Homo sapiens: one gene and its partner. The protein of the gene in region 1 interacts with the protein of each later gene in a pairwise test. Each region holds a gene or a part of one and is shown in the gene's direction. Other genes may lie near its edges.

Region 1 (8,292 bases):
TCCCGGGTACAGAGAATACAGCAGTGAACAAAAATCCCTGCCATCTTCAATGAGCTTCAGTTTTATTAATTAATTTATTTAGTTAGTTATTTTGAGACATAGTCTTGCTCTGTTGCCCAGGCTGGAGTGCAGTGGTGCAATCTCAGCTCACTGCAACCTCCGCCTCCCGGGTTCAAGCGATTCTCCTGCCTCAGCCTCCCGAGTAGCTGGGACTACAGATGCATGCCACCACGCCTGGCTAATTTTTGTATTTTTTAGTAAAGACAGGGTTTCACCATGTTGGCCAGGCTGGTCTCGAACTCCTGGCCTTAGGTGACCTGCCCACCTCGGCCTCCCAAAGTGCTGGGATTACAGGCATGAGCCACTGTGCCAGGCCAAGCTTCAGTTTTAATCTGGAGGGATGGACAATCTACAAATAGATCCTTAAAATCTATTCAAGTAGGGAGCTCTTGGGGGCCTCACAGACCAGTGGGACAAACATGTACACAGATGGTCACAACATGGCATAGTAAGTAAGGTTACTTAATAAACATCTGGCTGGGCATGGTGGCTCACGCCCATAATTCCTGCACTTTGGGAGGCCGAGGTGGGTGGATCACCTGAGGTCAGGCGTTCGAGACCAGCCTGGCCAACGTGATGAAATCCTGTCTCTACCACAAATGCAAAAAATTAGCCAGGCATAGTGGCAGGCACCTGTAATCCCAGCTACTCAGGAGGCTGAGGCAGGAGAATCACTTGAATCTGGGAGGCGGAGGTTGCAGTGAGCCGAGATCACCACTGCACTCCAGTCTGGGCAGCAAGAGCGAAACTCCGTCTCAACAAACAAACAAACAAAAACCCCAACATCTATTCAGCCCTTACTGTGTGCAAGGAGTTCACTAAGGAGGGAAGATCAACATGGTTCCTGCCTTCATGAAGCTTACAGCCTAGGAAACAAATGAGTAATTAATTATACATTAGCTACCTGCTCTGAAGAAAAGAGCAGCTGTTGGGATGTAGGATCACCAGGTGGCCTCTTTTAGGGAGGGAGGTCATGGAACAAGTCACGTGAAGAGAGAACAGGAGTCTTAAGGAGAGGACACGACAAGTGTAAAGTCCCCAAGAAGAGAAAGCATTGATGGGTGTGAGGACCAGAGAGAGGAGGCTAGTGTGTCTGCAGCTAAATCAGCAAAGGGGAGAGGGAGGAGAGGCGAGGTGGGCAGAGGCAAGATCATGTGAGACAGAAGGGAGCTCTTGGGGGCTTACAGACCGGTGGGACAGACAAACATGTACACAGATTGTCACAACATGGTACAGTAAGGTTACTTAATAAACATCTGGCTGGGCACAGCGGCTCATGCCTGTAATTCCTGCACTTTGGGAGGCCAAGACGGGTGGATCACCTGAGGTCAGGAGTTCGAGACCAGCCTGGTCAATATGATGAAACCCCGTCTCTATTAAAAATACAAAAAATTAGCCAGGTGTGGCAGCGGGCGCCTGAAATCCCAGATCAGTGAGACAGACGCCATTGGTGGGAGGGAAGTGTTATGATCTGAACTGACACGTTATCAAAGGGTCACTCTGACTGCTGAGTGCAGAACAGACTGGAATGGGGAGCAGGAGCCCCACTAGAAGGCCACTGCAGTCATTCAGGCAAGAGATGGGGAGGGCTCTGAAGTGGAAAAAGCAGATGGATTTAGATCTCTAGCTAAGTGCTGCAGCAGCTCAGCCTCATTCTGTGACAGTCACAGAAGGCTTCCTGCAGGAGGTGGTCTTGTAGTGGTGTCTTGAAGAATTAGTTTGCCAGGCAAATGAAGTCCAAGGTTGAGGAGGACCCTCTAGGAGAGAGAACAGCTAGGATAGAGGAAGAGAGGTATAGGGGGAAGGCTCTGTTCTATCTTCTTAGAGGGTAGGAAGGTGATGGGAAGCACCCAGGCCAGGATAGAGAGACTTCTAGAGCCAGAAATCAAAGGGTTGTGGAGGTCAAGCCATTGTTGAAAAGTTGTTAGGTGGGGCCAGGCATGGTGGCTCACACCTGTAATCCCAGCACTTTGGGAGGTCAAGGTGGGTGAATCATTTGAGGTCAAAAGTTCGAAACTGGCCGGGCACGGTGGCTCACGCCTGTAATCCCAGCACTTTGGGAGGCCGAGGCAGGCAGATCACCTGAGGTCAGGAGTTCGAGACCAGCCTGACCAACATGGTGAAACCCTGTCTCTACTGAAAATACAAAACTAGCTGGGCGTGGTGGCACATGCCTGTAATCCCAGCTAGTTGGGAGGCTGAGGCAGGAGAATTGCTTCAACACGGGAGGCAGAGGTTGCGGTGAGCTGAGATTGCACCATTGCATTTCAGCCTGGGCAACAAGAGCGAAACTCCCTCTCAAAAAAGAAAAGTTCGAGACCAGCCTGACCAACATGGTGAAACCCTGTCTCAACTTTAAAAATACAGAAAATTGGCCGGGCACGGTGGCTCATGCCTGTAATCCCAGCACTTTGGAAGGCTGAGGCGGGCGGATCACAAGGTCAGGAGATCAAGACCATCCTGGCTAACATGGTGAAACCCTGTCTCTACTAAAAATACAAAAAATTAGCCGGGCATGGTGGCGGGTGCCTGTAATCTCAGAATCTCAGCTACTTGGGAGGCTGAGGCACAAGAATCCCTTGAACCTGGGAGGTGGAGGTTTCAGTGAGCTGAGACTGTGCCACTGCACTCCAGCCTGGGCAGCAGAGTGAGACTCAGGCTCAAAAAAAAAGTTGCTAACTGGAAGAGATATGGTCAAATATATGATTTGTGAGGGCCAGCATAGGAGGGGCCTGGAAGCTGCTGAGATGCAGTGAGGCGTACAGAGGGAATACAAGGGGACAGAACCTGAAGGACTTTTTAAAATTAATTAATTAATTTTATTTTTTATTATTTTTATTTTATTTTTTTATTAGACTTTAAGTTCTAGGGTACATGTACACAACGTGCAGGTTTGATACATAGGTATACATGCGCCATGTTGGTTTGCTGCACCCATCAACTCATCATTTACATTAGGTATTTCTCCTAAAGCTATCCCTCCCCAAGCCCCCCACCCCCCAGCAGGCCCTGGTGTGTGCTGTTCCCCCTCTGTGTCCAAGTGATCTCATTGTTCAATTCCCACTTATGAGTGAGAACATGCAGTGTTTGGTTTTCTGTCCTTGTGATAGTTTGCTGAGAATGATGATTTCCAGCTTCATCCGTGTCCCTGCAAAGGACATGAACTCATCCTTTTTTATGGCTGCATAGTATTCCGTGGTGTATATGTGCCACATTTTCTTTTTTTATATATATAATATATATATTTTATTATACTCTAAGTTCTAGAGTATATGTGCACAATGTGCAGGTTTGTTACATATGTATACATGTGCCATGTTGGTGTGCTGCACCCATTAACTCATCATTTACGTTAGGTATATCTCCTAATGCTATCCCTCCTCCCTCCCCCAGAACCCGAAGGGTCTCTTTTCCCCTGAGTGGGCAGTTTTGGGGGCCTCAGGGACACTCAGGTGGAGATGCCGTGGACCCATGGGAGGCACAGCAGAGGGAGCATGGCCTCCAGCATCATTCAATCCTAGCTTTACATCCTGGCCTGCTGCATTGAAACCCTGTGCCCCTGAGCAGCCTGCAAATGGGAAATGACAAAACTCATGCCTAGAGGGTAGCTGTGGACATTAGATGGGAAGTTGCATGTAAAAGCTCTCAAAATGTACATTCGGCTAGTAAGGGGTCAATAATTGCTAGCTATATATTGTCAGTTACAGGTGTGGCAGTTGTGAAGTCAGAACTGGCCTGGAGATGATTAAGAGATCTGTTGGCTCAAAAAAAATTTTTTTAATGGGTGCATAGTGGGTGTATATATTTATTGGGATACGTGACCTGTTGGCATTCATTCATTCATTCATTTAAAACAGGGTTTCACTCTGTTGCGCAGGCTGGAGTGCAATGCCATGATCACAGCTCACTACAGCCTCAAATCCCTGGGCTCAAGCAATCCTCCTGCCTCAGCTGTTGGGTTTCAAGTGGGGACTGATGGCAGTGGAATGTCCAGGATGACCCCAGGAGAGTGTGGAACAGGGCTTGGGACTAACCTGGGCCACCATCGATTAAGAGAGGGTTAGGAGAAGCAGATGGGGGAAGGAGGGGAGAGGAGGGGAGGAGGAAGAGGAAGGAGAGGAAGTGCCCCCTAAGGAGCCTGAGGAGAACCAAAAGAGGCTGGTGCCAGGGCAGGAGTGGTAGCCGTGGGGAAGGCTGCGGAGAGGCCCAGTTGGCCTAGTAATGGCGTCACCCCTGACCTGGCCAGAGGGTGTGGTAGGCCAGAGGCAGACACAGCGGATGAGGGGCAGAAGGGAGGCGGGTGGAGGGGTGCAGTGAATGGAGAGGGAGCACCGAAGCTAAGCTTGGGCAGCCAGAGGGCAGGGGCCAGCTAGGGCCCGGCCCAGCGGTCATGGGGCCTGGGTGGAGGGTGTACAAAGCGGGGCCTGCACCGAGCCCTGAAGGCAGGGAAGTGACCTCGTCTCGAATCCAGATTTTTGCCACTGCCTCTCTCCGTGACCTCGAACGAGTCACTCATCTTGTCTGAGCCTCAGTTTCCTCACCTGTGAAGTAAGGATCAAAGCAGTCGGTACTTTCCAGAATTTTCAAGAAGCTGCCCTTGGAGGCACATAGTAACCACGCCAGCCACCAGTCCTGGACCCCACCTGCTTTAGTCCAAGCCCCGCCCCAGACCCCCGAACTCACCTGGCCGCGCACACTAGCCACGCCCCTAACTGGCCCCGCCTTCACCTGGCTCCGCCCCGACCGACGAGCCCCGCCCCACCTGCCGCTCCCACTGGCCACGCCCCCACCTGGCCACGCCCCGGTTGCCCAGGTCTCGCTCCGCACACGCTCAGCCGAGCCCAGTCTGGGAGGGACGCGCCCGGCAGCTGTCCACCGATCCCGGCCACCGCCCCCGGCCACCCCCACCCCGCGAGCCCATGGAGGCTCCGGGACCCCGCGCCTTGCGGACTGCGCTCTGTGGCGGCTGTTGCTGCCTCCTCCTATGTGCCCAGCTGGCTGTGGCTGGTAACTCGCGGCAGGGTCTGGCTAGGGGCTCGACGGGGACGGATGGAGCTTGCACCTCAGCCAGCCGTCTCCCCAGGAGCAGCCTGGGCTTGAGGGGAGGGGGCTTTCCGGCCAAGTGCAGGCCTCCAGGGGTGGGAGAGGGGGCTCCAGCTCTGTGTGGAGCCCTGTGTGTAAATATAGGCCCCAGGTGTGGGGGCCTAGGGAGCTTCAGGTGGTCTGGGGGAGGTGGCTCCAACTGAATCTGGGAACCCCGGGTGTATGCAAAGGGAGGGGCTCTGGGTGAATGTGGGGAGGCTCTAGGTGTGTGTAGACCTCTGCTGTGGAAGCTCCAGGTGTGCGCTGGGGCTTGGGGATCCAGGGGTGAGTGTGAGAGCCCAGATGTGTGCAGAGGGGCGAGGGCCACCGGAGTGTTGGGTGGGAGGGTGGGCGGGTGCCACAGCTTGGCTTCGAGGAATTCTCCCTTCCCACTCCACCGCACTACCAGGTAAAGGAGCTCGAGGCTTTGGGAGGGGAGCCCTGATCCGCCTGAATATCTGGCCGGCGGTCCAAGGGGCCTGCAAACAGCTGGAGGTCTGTGAGCACTGCGTGGAGGGAGACGGAGCGCGCAATCTCTCCAGCTGCGTGTGGGAGCAGTGCCGGCCAGAGGAGCCAGGTATGGAGCTGAGCCCTCCCCAGATTGAGTGCCCCCAGCTCTGAACCCCAAGGCCCTGGCCCCTCTCCCCAAACCTCCCCCCTGCACCTTCTCTCACCAGGACACTGTGTGGCCCAATCTGAGGTGGTCAAGGAAGGTTGCTCCATCTACAACCGCTCAGAGGCATGTCCAGGTAAGGGGGTTCTTGCACCTAAGCCAAGTTGCATGGGTCTCCCCAGCCATAGCCTGCCCCCCAGGAGGAAACAGCCTCTCTCAGGCGGTGGATTTTGCTCACCCATACCTGGGCCCGGTATCAGTTCTGCCTTTAGCTCACTGAGAAGTCCCCTCCTCTCTCTGCCTATTTCCTCATCTGAAAATTAGTACAGGTGTGTGGAGGGGATGGGAGTGTTAGCTCTTCTTCTAGTTTAAGGCATAGCAAGGACTTTGGAAGTTCAGAGGGAATGAGAGGGAGTGCTTCCTGGAGGAGGTGGCATCAGTAATGAGCCTGGAAGGTAGAGATGGAGAGAGAGCACATCTGGTGGAGGGAACTGTGTGGGGCTTGCAAGTATGTTGGATGTCTAGAGTAGGGACAGGGCTGCATCTGAATCGGAAGTTTAGCGGTGAGTGGGGGCTGGGGTCTTGATGGGAGTCAGGGGGTGGGAAGGCTGCTTTGCTATGGATCACCTGTCTCCTCAGCTGCTCACCACCACCCCACCTATGAACCGAAGACAGTCACAACAGGTGAGTACTCCCTGGAGACGGGGCAGTGGGAGGAGCAGAGGTGCAGGGGAAGACAGCTCTGGGCTCAGGCACTGACATGCTCTGTGACCTCGGCCCTGCGCCTTCTCCCTCGGAGCCTGTCTCCGCATCTGTGAAATGGGTTGGATGATGCCTTTCTCATAGAGTTGCTCTGCAGGTTTTATGAGAAGCTGTACAGTGCCCACTTCAGTGTCTGACTCACTGAAGGCAATCAAGAAATGACAGTTCCCATCCCTCCTCCCCATTGCCAGTTCTGGGAACTCAAGGTCACCCCTCGGGACTTGTCCTTGGAGGTGAGGGTGTGTGGCTCGAGTTGCTCAGGAGACATCCTCAGTGCCTGCCTACTGCACCCTCCAGGCCCAGAGAGGGTCACAAGGCGGGTTCCTGGCGGAGTAGAGGCAAGAATGCCACCCTTTGCTTCCCACTCCCTCTCAGGGGCTGGAGGTCACCAGACTTGGCAGGGATGGCTGAAGAGGCCCTTGGTTAATTAAAGCCAGAAACCGATCTCAGAAGCTGAATTATTGATGGCTCAGCTCCCTCAGCTGGAGCCCCGGATCAGCCTCATGTGGCTCATTTCTCCCCTCTTCTGCTCCTCATCCCCCAGCTTCCTTCTCTGGGGCTCCCTGAGCGGGAGCTGGGACCACTGTTTGCCCTTCATATTGTCAGACTCCTTCCACCCCTTACACCTTCTGGGAGGGAGACCCAGTTCAGGCTGGGCCCCTTTCCACTGTCCCAGAATGATCTTCCATCCACCAGCCCTGCCCTGTTCTGGGCACCCAGCCCAGGGCCTGAAATCAAATCCCTGCTAGGAGTGGACAGGTACCGTGGCACAGCTGGGAGCCACCCAGGCATAGCCTGGCAACCATGGCCCTAAAGCCCTACCTTCTAAGGGGCAGAGGAGATGGTCAGGGGACCCTGTGTGAGTCTGGCTATGTCCTGTGAGGTGACTTTGGCCAAGCCTGTCCCTCAGCCATGTTCCCCCTGACACACACTGTCCAGTCCTCGCTTACCCACTTAGCAGGGTGACAGTTGGGGCCTCCACTTCTCCCCCTGCTCCTTCCCTCTCTGAGGGCTCTGACATTGGGTGACACTGAGGTCTTAGGGCTTAGGAGTCCTGAAAAGGGACTATATCGTCTGCATCTTGGCTCTGAACCCTGAGGTCCAAGGCTGAAAGGAATTGTGAGCAGGGGAGGGTCTGAGTTCTGGCTCTGTCTTCACCCTATTGGGCTGGTGAGGCCCAGGGAGGGTGGGAGCCCAGTCACTGGTCCAAGCCACCAATTGGACCATGTGATCATGAGGCCCAGAGAGAATGTGGGTGGCATAAAAGCCACAGAGCAAGCCAGGAGCAGAGCCAGGGCTGGACAGCACCCCACCCTCCCCTGCCACTGTTCCTCCCACCAGGCGCTTCCCAACTGCCTGCGGGATCTGGACTAAACGGAGCCCAGGGTTTAAGCACCCCATATTGAGGACCGGGGCCTCCAGGTTACTTGTGCCAGTTATGAGGGTAGGACTGGGATCCTGGTTCACAGTGACTGCTATGACCCCTGCCCTGCCTCACCCCTGCAGGGAGCCCCCCAGTCCCTGAGGCCCACAGCCCTGGATTTGACGGGGCCAGCTTTATCGGAGGTGTCGTGCTGGTGTTGAGCCTACAGGCGGTGGCTTTCTTTGTGCTGCACTTCCTCAAGGCCAAGGACAGCACCTACCAGACGCTGTGAGTACCTGGCCAGCAGCAAGTACCTGAGTCCCAGCTTACCTCCTGGTTCCTGCCCCACCGTTCCCCTTCAGTACCCAGGGTGCTGTCTTCTCCATGGGCAAGCCCTCAGGACGGTGACAGC
Region 2 (7,412 bases), on another chromosome or scaffold:
CTCAAGTGATCCATCCTCCTCGGCCTCCCAAAATGCTGGGATTACAGGTGTGAGCTACCGTGCCTGGCCTCCACCTGTATGGTTTTAAATGTACAGATAAGCAAGAATAGAACACGACCCTGGAATTCCAAGTTTTCAGATCACGTGTTTGATGTCATGTGGACTCCACACCTGGGCCTTTGACATAGTCTCAATTTGCCATCAATAGACAGAGTCCCCAGGTCTGGTCTTCTCTTCAGTCAGAGCACCTAGAGCACCTTCATATCGCCACCTCCCTATCTTCCTAAATATCCTCCTCATTCTTTCATTGCCTTCCCTTTCTCCACAGACAGGCAAACAACCTTCTTCCCAGCGCTTCTCCTCTGTGTTTGCTCCGATGCCTGGCATGTGGCTGTCTGAGGTTCAGAATTATTCTCAGACCTGTGTAACAAGAACTCTAGGATGAGTCACCTGGTGCCTGCTTTTTTATACCCTCAGGCCAAGGCAGGGAGGCCTGATTTCCCTGGCAGAGTTAATTGTGTGGCAAAAGTGCTGCCCAAGGTTATGAGCTGTCTCTGCTTTTTTCCCCATTACTGGTTCCCATTCCTGTCTCTCTGCCCATTCAGCATTGTGCTCAGAAGGGCATCCTCCACCTCAACATTCCTGTAGTGTGAAAAATGGTTATTGTAGGAAAAGTGGTAATGCTAAATTCGAAACCCTTCAGGTTTTTTTTTTTTTTTTTTTTTTTTTTTTTTACCCAGGCTGGAGTGCAGTGGCGTGATCTCAGCTCACTGCAAACTCTACCTCCTGGGTTCAAGTGATTCTCCTGCCTCAGTCTCCCGAGTAGCTTGGATTACAGGCACGCTGTACCATGCCCAGTTAATTTTTGTATTTTTAGTAGAAACAGGGTTTCACCATGTTGGCCAGGCTGGTCTCGAACTCCTGAGCTCAAGTGATCTTCCCGCCTCGGCCCACAGAAGTCCTGGAATTACAGGCATGAGCCACTATACCCAGCCTAAATCCTAAACCCTTCAGGTTCTTGCAATACCAGTGACATTGAAATTGAATTAATTTGGAATAAAGGCATTTGCTGTAAGGGAGGCTATTTTTTTTTTTTTTTTTTTTTTGAGAAGGAGTCTCACTCTGTCACCCAGACTGGAGTACAGTGGCACGATCTCGGCTCACTGCAACCTCCGCCCTCTGAGTTCAAGCGATTCTCCTGCCTCAGCCTCCGGATTAGCTGGGATTACCGGCGTCTGCCACCGCGCCTGGCTAATTTTTTATATGTTTAGTAGAGACAGGGTTTCACCATGTTGGCCAGGCTGGTCTTGAACTCCTGACCTCGTGATCCACCTGCCTCGGGCTCCCGTAGTGCTGGGATTACAGGTGTGAACCACCGCGCCTGGTCGTAAGGGAGGCTATTAACTTCTTTTTCTTTTTTTTGAGACGGAGTCTTGCTCTGTTGCCCAGGCTGGAGTGCAATGGCGCAATCTTGGCTCACTGCAACCTCTGCCTCCTGGGTTCAAGCGATTCTCCTGCCTCAGCCTCCTGAGTAGCTGGGATTACAGGCACCCACCACCATGCTTAGCTAATTTTTGTATTTTTTAGTAGAGATGGGATTTCATCATGTTGGTCAGGCTGGTCTCGAACTCCTGACCACAGGTGATCCACCTGCCTCGACCTCCGAAAGTGCTGGGATTACAGGCGTGGGCCACTGTGCCCGGCCCTATTAACTTCTTTATACTCCAGTTTAAATACTAAGTGTTCGCAAAACTTAAAAAATTCCTGTTTTCTGCACACACAGGCTCCTTGTGGAATTCTTCAAACACTTACAAGTGCATCATTTTCAACGTGATCGGTTTTTTAATACTTAAATTTCAGAGCTGTTTACAAATGTAGAAACACTCAAAATGAGTTCAAGTTGTTTCATGTTGGGAGCTCTTTTGCCATCAGTTTTAAAGTGAGCAGCCTGAAAATGAAAAAAATTAAAGCTTGGCACTAATAGAAAATAGAACATGTTGGCCAGACATGGTGGCTTACACCTGTAATCCCAGCACTTTCGGAGGTTGAGGCAAGAGGATTGCTTGAGCTCAGGACTTCAAAACCAGCCTGGGTAACATAGCAAAACCCTGTCTCTAAAAAATAAAAAAAAAGAACATGTCAAACAGTATTTTCCAACTCATTTAATTAATTGAAAGACTGTACCTGAAAAATGTTTTACAGAAACCCTTTTTTGTTAAAATAATTTACCACAATTAATATACCCTAGATACCCTATTATTTCCATAAAGTATTCCTAGAGATCAATAATATTGTTCAGTTTTCTTTTTCTTTTTTTTTTTTGAGACAGAGTTTCACTGTTGTTGCTTAGGCTGGAGTGCAATGGTGTGATCTCGGCTCACCGCAACCTCCGCCTCCTGGGTTCAAGTGATTCTCCTGCCTCAGCCTCCTGAGTAGCTGGGGTTACAGGCATGTGCCACCATGGCCGGCTAATTTTGTATTTTTAGTAGAGATGAGGCTTCTCCATGTTGGTCAGGCTGGTCTCGAACTTCTGACCTCAGGTGATCCGCCCGCCTCAGCCTCCCAAAGTGCTGGGATTACAGGCGTGAGCCACCGTGACCGGCCTCAGATTTTTATCATAATATTTTCAGCAGATAATAAAATCTCAATTATTAGAAAATAAAGTGATGTGTTTATGTGTATTTAACATGCCAATATTAGAATTTTCAAACGCGATTTATTTTTATTTTTTTTTTGAGACCGAGTCTTGCTCTGTTGCCCAGGCTCGAATGCAGTGGCATGATCTCGGCTCACCATAACCTCCGCCTCCCTGGTTCAAGAGATTTTCCTGCTTCAGCCTCCCAAGTAGTTGGGACTACAGGCACCTGCCACCATGCTAGGCTAATTTTTGTATTTTTAGTAGAGATGGGGGTTTTACCATGTTGGCCAGGCTGGTCTTGAACTCCTGACCTCAGGTGATCCTCCCACCTCCACCTCCCAAAGTGCTGGGATTACAGGTGTGAGCCGCTGCACCCGGCCTCAAACATGATTTTAGATCTTTTTTTTTTGTTTTTGTTTTTCTTTTTCAAAGTAGTCATTCTTCACTGAGAAGGAACACATACCAAGGTTAGTGGGTTCGATCATTTGAAAAATGGCAGCACCATTCATTTTAAACATTTTCTGGCTTTTTACTATGGAATCTCTCATGGTATAAAAATAAATTTTAGATTTTTCAGAGCCAAAATGAAAATACTTTAGAACAAAATCAGGCCAAATCTTTGGAATTCAAAGTGGCTGAACACCTAAAAGAAACAGAATATAAAACTCGCCAATTACGTGTCTTCCCAGAGGTCTGGACAGAATTTCTTTCTAATAATTTGGACATTTCTTCCCTTTGCCAGTGATACGGGAACAACACCTCCAGAGAGTGGTATTTTTGGATTTATGATAAACTTCTCTGCATTTCTTGGTAAGTACACAATAATTATTATAAATAATTGAAAAGCTCACAATTCCAAGTGAAGTTGATGTGTCATTTGTAGTTTTCATATAATTTTTATTTTATTTTATTTATTTTTTCTGAGACAGGGTCTCTGTCATCCAGGCTGGAGTGCAGTGGCGTGATCACGGCTCACTGCAGCCTCAACCTGCCAGGCTCAAGCAGTCCTCCCACCTCAGCCTCCGGAGTAGCTGGTACTACAGGTGCACACCACCACGCCCAGCTAATTTTTTGTAGTTTTTTGTAGAGATGGGGTTTCACCATGTTGCCAGGCTGGCCTTGAGCTCCCGGGCTTCAGTGATCCACCTGCCTTGGCCTCTCAAAGTGCTGAACTTATAGGTGTGAGCCACTGCACACGGCCTTGTGTATAATTTTTTTAAAAGCACAATCTTTGCAGCTAGATTTTTGTCCTATTTTGAGAAACTGAAGTTAAAAGATATAAAAAATTATGGCTTTATTAGAGAACTATACTTTAATTAGTAATTTGTAACAGGATTTGCTGTAGGTGGTTTTAAATACCAAACTTCTGGAACGGATTTTAAGTGCAATTTAGTTTTTAAAAGTGTTGATTTATGGTCAAGACACTTATGTAAGCCAAAGACACCCAATGCGTAAGCTAAGTTTCTCAAAGTGTATTCTGAAGGCAAGCTGATGAAAAGTCACCTGGAGTTCTCGTAAAATGCAGGTTCCTGGGCCATGCTACTCAACCAGAACCTTTGGGAGTGTGGGTTCCTGAAGATGTGTTGTAAACAAGCACTCTAGGGGACTTGGTTTCTCACTAAAGTTTGAGGACCATTGACAAAGGCATTATCTTACCTGTTAGAGAAAGGGGACAGGTGGAGCAAGGAATAGTATGATTTTTCTTTTCAGTTCCTCAGATGTACCTAAGATGCAGATGATAGGGTGCAACCTTGTCATAAGCCAATTAATGTAATGCATATTAATTACAACTATTGTATAATTAATGTAAAGCTCAGTCTTCTATAAGGTGATTCAAGTATATAGATATCAGATGTGGGGCATTTTCTCTTAGTCCTTCTATAATCTCCCCCCAAACAATCAAGTGTTTGCCAAGGGCCTATCTTGTAACCAACGCTTTCTGTTCCTCTCTACTGGTACAGTGTGAGAAGGGACAGTGATGCTGACCCTACTTAGTGACTTGGCATTTTGGAATTTGTTCATCCTACTTGGTAGCAGGAAAGTTTCACCGCATCACCATTTGTAGTCCTCCTAAAGTTTTGGAGGTGAGCAAGGGGAAGTAGCAATATGGAGTCAGTCAATCCCAGTGCCCTCTTACACCATCCTTGCCAAGAATCCAGACTTGGAAAACAGAGAGATTATTTTATCACAGCAAGTGATAAATACGGCTTTTGCTTCTGAATAAAGCAGAAACTGACAAATATATTCATTTGAAATAGTCTATGTGAGCTCATGCCTGTAATTCTAGCATTTTGGGAGGCTGAAGCAGGAGGATCTGTTGAGCCCAGGAGTTCAAGACCAGCCTGGGCAATGTAGTGAGATCTCATCTCTACAAAAAGTTAAAAAAGAAAGAAAGAAAGAAAAAAGAAGTTAGCTGGGTGTGGTGATGTGTGCCTGTAGTTCCAGCTACTTGGAAGGATAAAGTGGAAGAATTGCCTGAGCCCAGGAGGTCAAGGCTGCAGTGAACCATGACTGTGCCGCTGCACTCCCACCCAGGTGACAGAGCAAGTCCCTGTCTCCACAAAAAAAAAAAAAAAAAAAGATTTATGATAAGTTATTAGTTTTTAGCCTGCTTTTTAAAAATTCAGGAATAGATTATGGCCGTCATACTATGTAAATATATACACATCTACTTTATCCTTTCCACACATGCATGATATCTTTCACAAGGATGTATTATCATTTATTTAATCAGTTCCCTATTGTCCAACATTTAGGCTATTTCTGGTATTTTGTAATTCTAATGTTGAAGTGAACATCTTTTAAATATATCTTTGCATATTTGTGTGAGTTTTTCTATAAGATAAATTTGCTGAGTTAAAGGGAATATGTATCTAAAATTATGGTAGCTATTTATTTATTCAACATTTACTAAGTATGTACTATATGATAGGGTTTGTGCTTGTTTATGACTTAGTGTTGAGTTTACAACAGCCAACAAAACAGACAAGAGCCCTGCTCTCATGGAGGCTACATTTTATTGCCAAATTACAACAAATGGTATTTGGTTAATTGACTAGCTATTTGGAAAAACATACCTTTACTATCCTCCTCACATCATACACAAAAACCAATTGCAATTTAATAGACATGAAAAGCAAAACTATGCAATAATTAAATTACAGGAGAATATTTTTTAAACCTTGGAATAGAAACACAAAACGCAGAAGAATTGATAGATATGAGTAGATTAAAAATTAAAACTTTCAAATGATGTAAGATACAAGATACAATGTTAAAAGACAAATAGCAGAGCAGAAGAAAATTTGTAATATTTATAGCAGATAATAGACTAATGGACATAATGTGTAAAAAGTAACTACAAATTAGATATCGACAAGCCCAAGAGAAGAATAAAAAGAAAATTGTAAACATGCATTTCTCAGAAGAAGAAATGCAAATGACCAGTAGATATACTGAAAGTTGCTAAATCTTGCTAATGATCAGAGAAATGCAAACTAACCCAACAGGTTGAATTTTCATTTATTAGACTGACAGAATTAAAAAGGCAAGGGCATACACAATTGCTCGCAAATTCTGCTGGTGGGAGTCTAAATCGTCAACGGGCTGGAGCAATTTGGAGGTGTTTCTAATTGTGCATGGTTTTTTGACCCAGTAATATTACTTCTAGGAACTGGTCTTTCAGAAACCCAAAGATTTATATACAAGGATATTCATGGCGTGTTGTTTGTAGCAGGAAAAACATGGAAACAATGTAGAAATTCATTCTTAGGAGAATGAGGAATAAATATAGTATCTCATACCACAGACCATGATAAGATCCCTGAAAACAATGAAGTAGATCTGTTTGTACTTGCTTGAAAAGATCTCCATGGTACACTGTTAAATGGAAAAAGCAAGTCACAGAGTAATACATGTACTATAATAGCATTTACATGAAAAGGACAACAGCCAAGGGGTGTGTGTGTGTGTGTGTGTGTGTGTGTGTGTGTGTGTGTGTGTGTCTGTACATGCTGGGGAGAGAGTAAGATGGAGTCAGGAGGGACAGGGGTGGGAAAGTGGGGAGACTTGCAATCAGTACATTTTTAAAAAGTGATACAAAGCTGCTCCTGTTTTTCATCCTAAAGACATCAAATTATGAACATTCATCAAAGTTCTCTTCTTTTTCAGGTGCAGCCACGATGTATACAAGATACAAAATAGTACAGAAGCAAAATCAAACCTGCTATTTCAGCACTCCTGTTTTTAACTTGGTGTCTTTAGTGCTTGGATTGGTGGGATGTTTCGGAATGGGCATTGTCGCCAATTTTCAGGTATAATCTGGAGCTTTTTCAGTTATGAGGAGTGGTGGAGTGTATGTGTCTGAAGAGAGCAGCAGAAATGCAAGAGGCACACTTATGCCATTATAGCCATTAAATGCTTGATGAGTTTACAATAAGTGGGTTAGTTTGCTTTTTAGAAACCTTTAACATTTGGAAATCAGGGCCAGGTGTGGTGGCTCACACCTGTAATCCCAGCACTTTGGGAAACTGAGGTGGATCATGAGACCAGGAGTTCAAGACCAGTCTGGCCAACATGGTGAAGCCTCATTTCTACTAAAAATACAAAATTAGCCAGGTGTGGCGTCACATGCCTGTAATCCCAGCTACTCAGGAAGCTGAGGCAGGAGAATTGTTTGAACCTGGAAGGTGGAGGTTGCAGTGAGCCGAGATTGTGCCACTGCACTTGACAGAGCGAGACTCTATCTCAAAAAAAAAAAAAAAAAGCATTTGAA

The links. Proteins that work in one complex are often made in the same cells at the same time.
Region 2: the proteins of CD164L2 (region 1) and DRAM1 interact in binary tests that used the Homo sapiens proteins (3 or more experiments, as listed by UniProt).

The regions. Positions count from the first base shown.
Region 1 is NC_000001.11:27,379,927-27,388,218, reverse strand, and holds the start of CD164L2 (CD164 sialomucin-like 2 protein isoform 1 precursor), read left to right. Parts: upstream 1-4,885; 5' UTR 4,886-4,979; coding exon 4,980-5,067; intron 5,068-5,551; coding exon 5,552-5,719; intron 5,720-5,819; coding exon 5,820-5,891; intron 5,892-6,394; coding exon 6,395-6,439; intron 6,440-8,023; coding exon 8,024-8,168; coding exon of another isoform or gene 8,169-8,172; exon of another isoform or gene 8,173-8,292.
Region 2 is NC_000012.12:101,894,483-101,901,894, forward strand, and holds part of DRAM1 (DNA damage-regulated autophagy modulator protein 1), read left to right. Parts: intron 1-3,380; coding exon 3,381-3,448; intron 3,449-6,808; coding exon 6,809-6,951; intron 6,952-7,412. UniProt on the Homo sapiens protein: Lysosomal modulator of autophagy that plays a central role in p53/TP53-mediated apoptosis. Not involved in p73/TP73-mediated autophagy.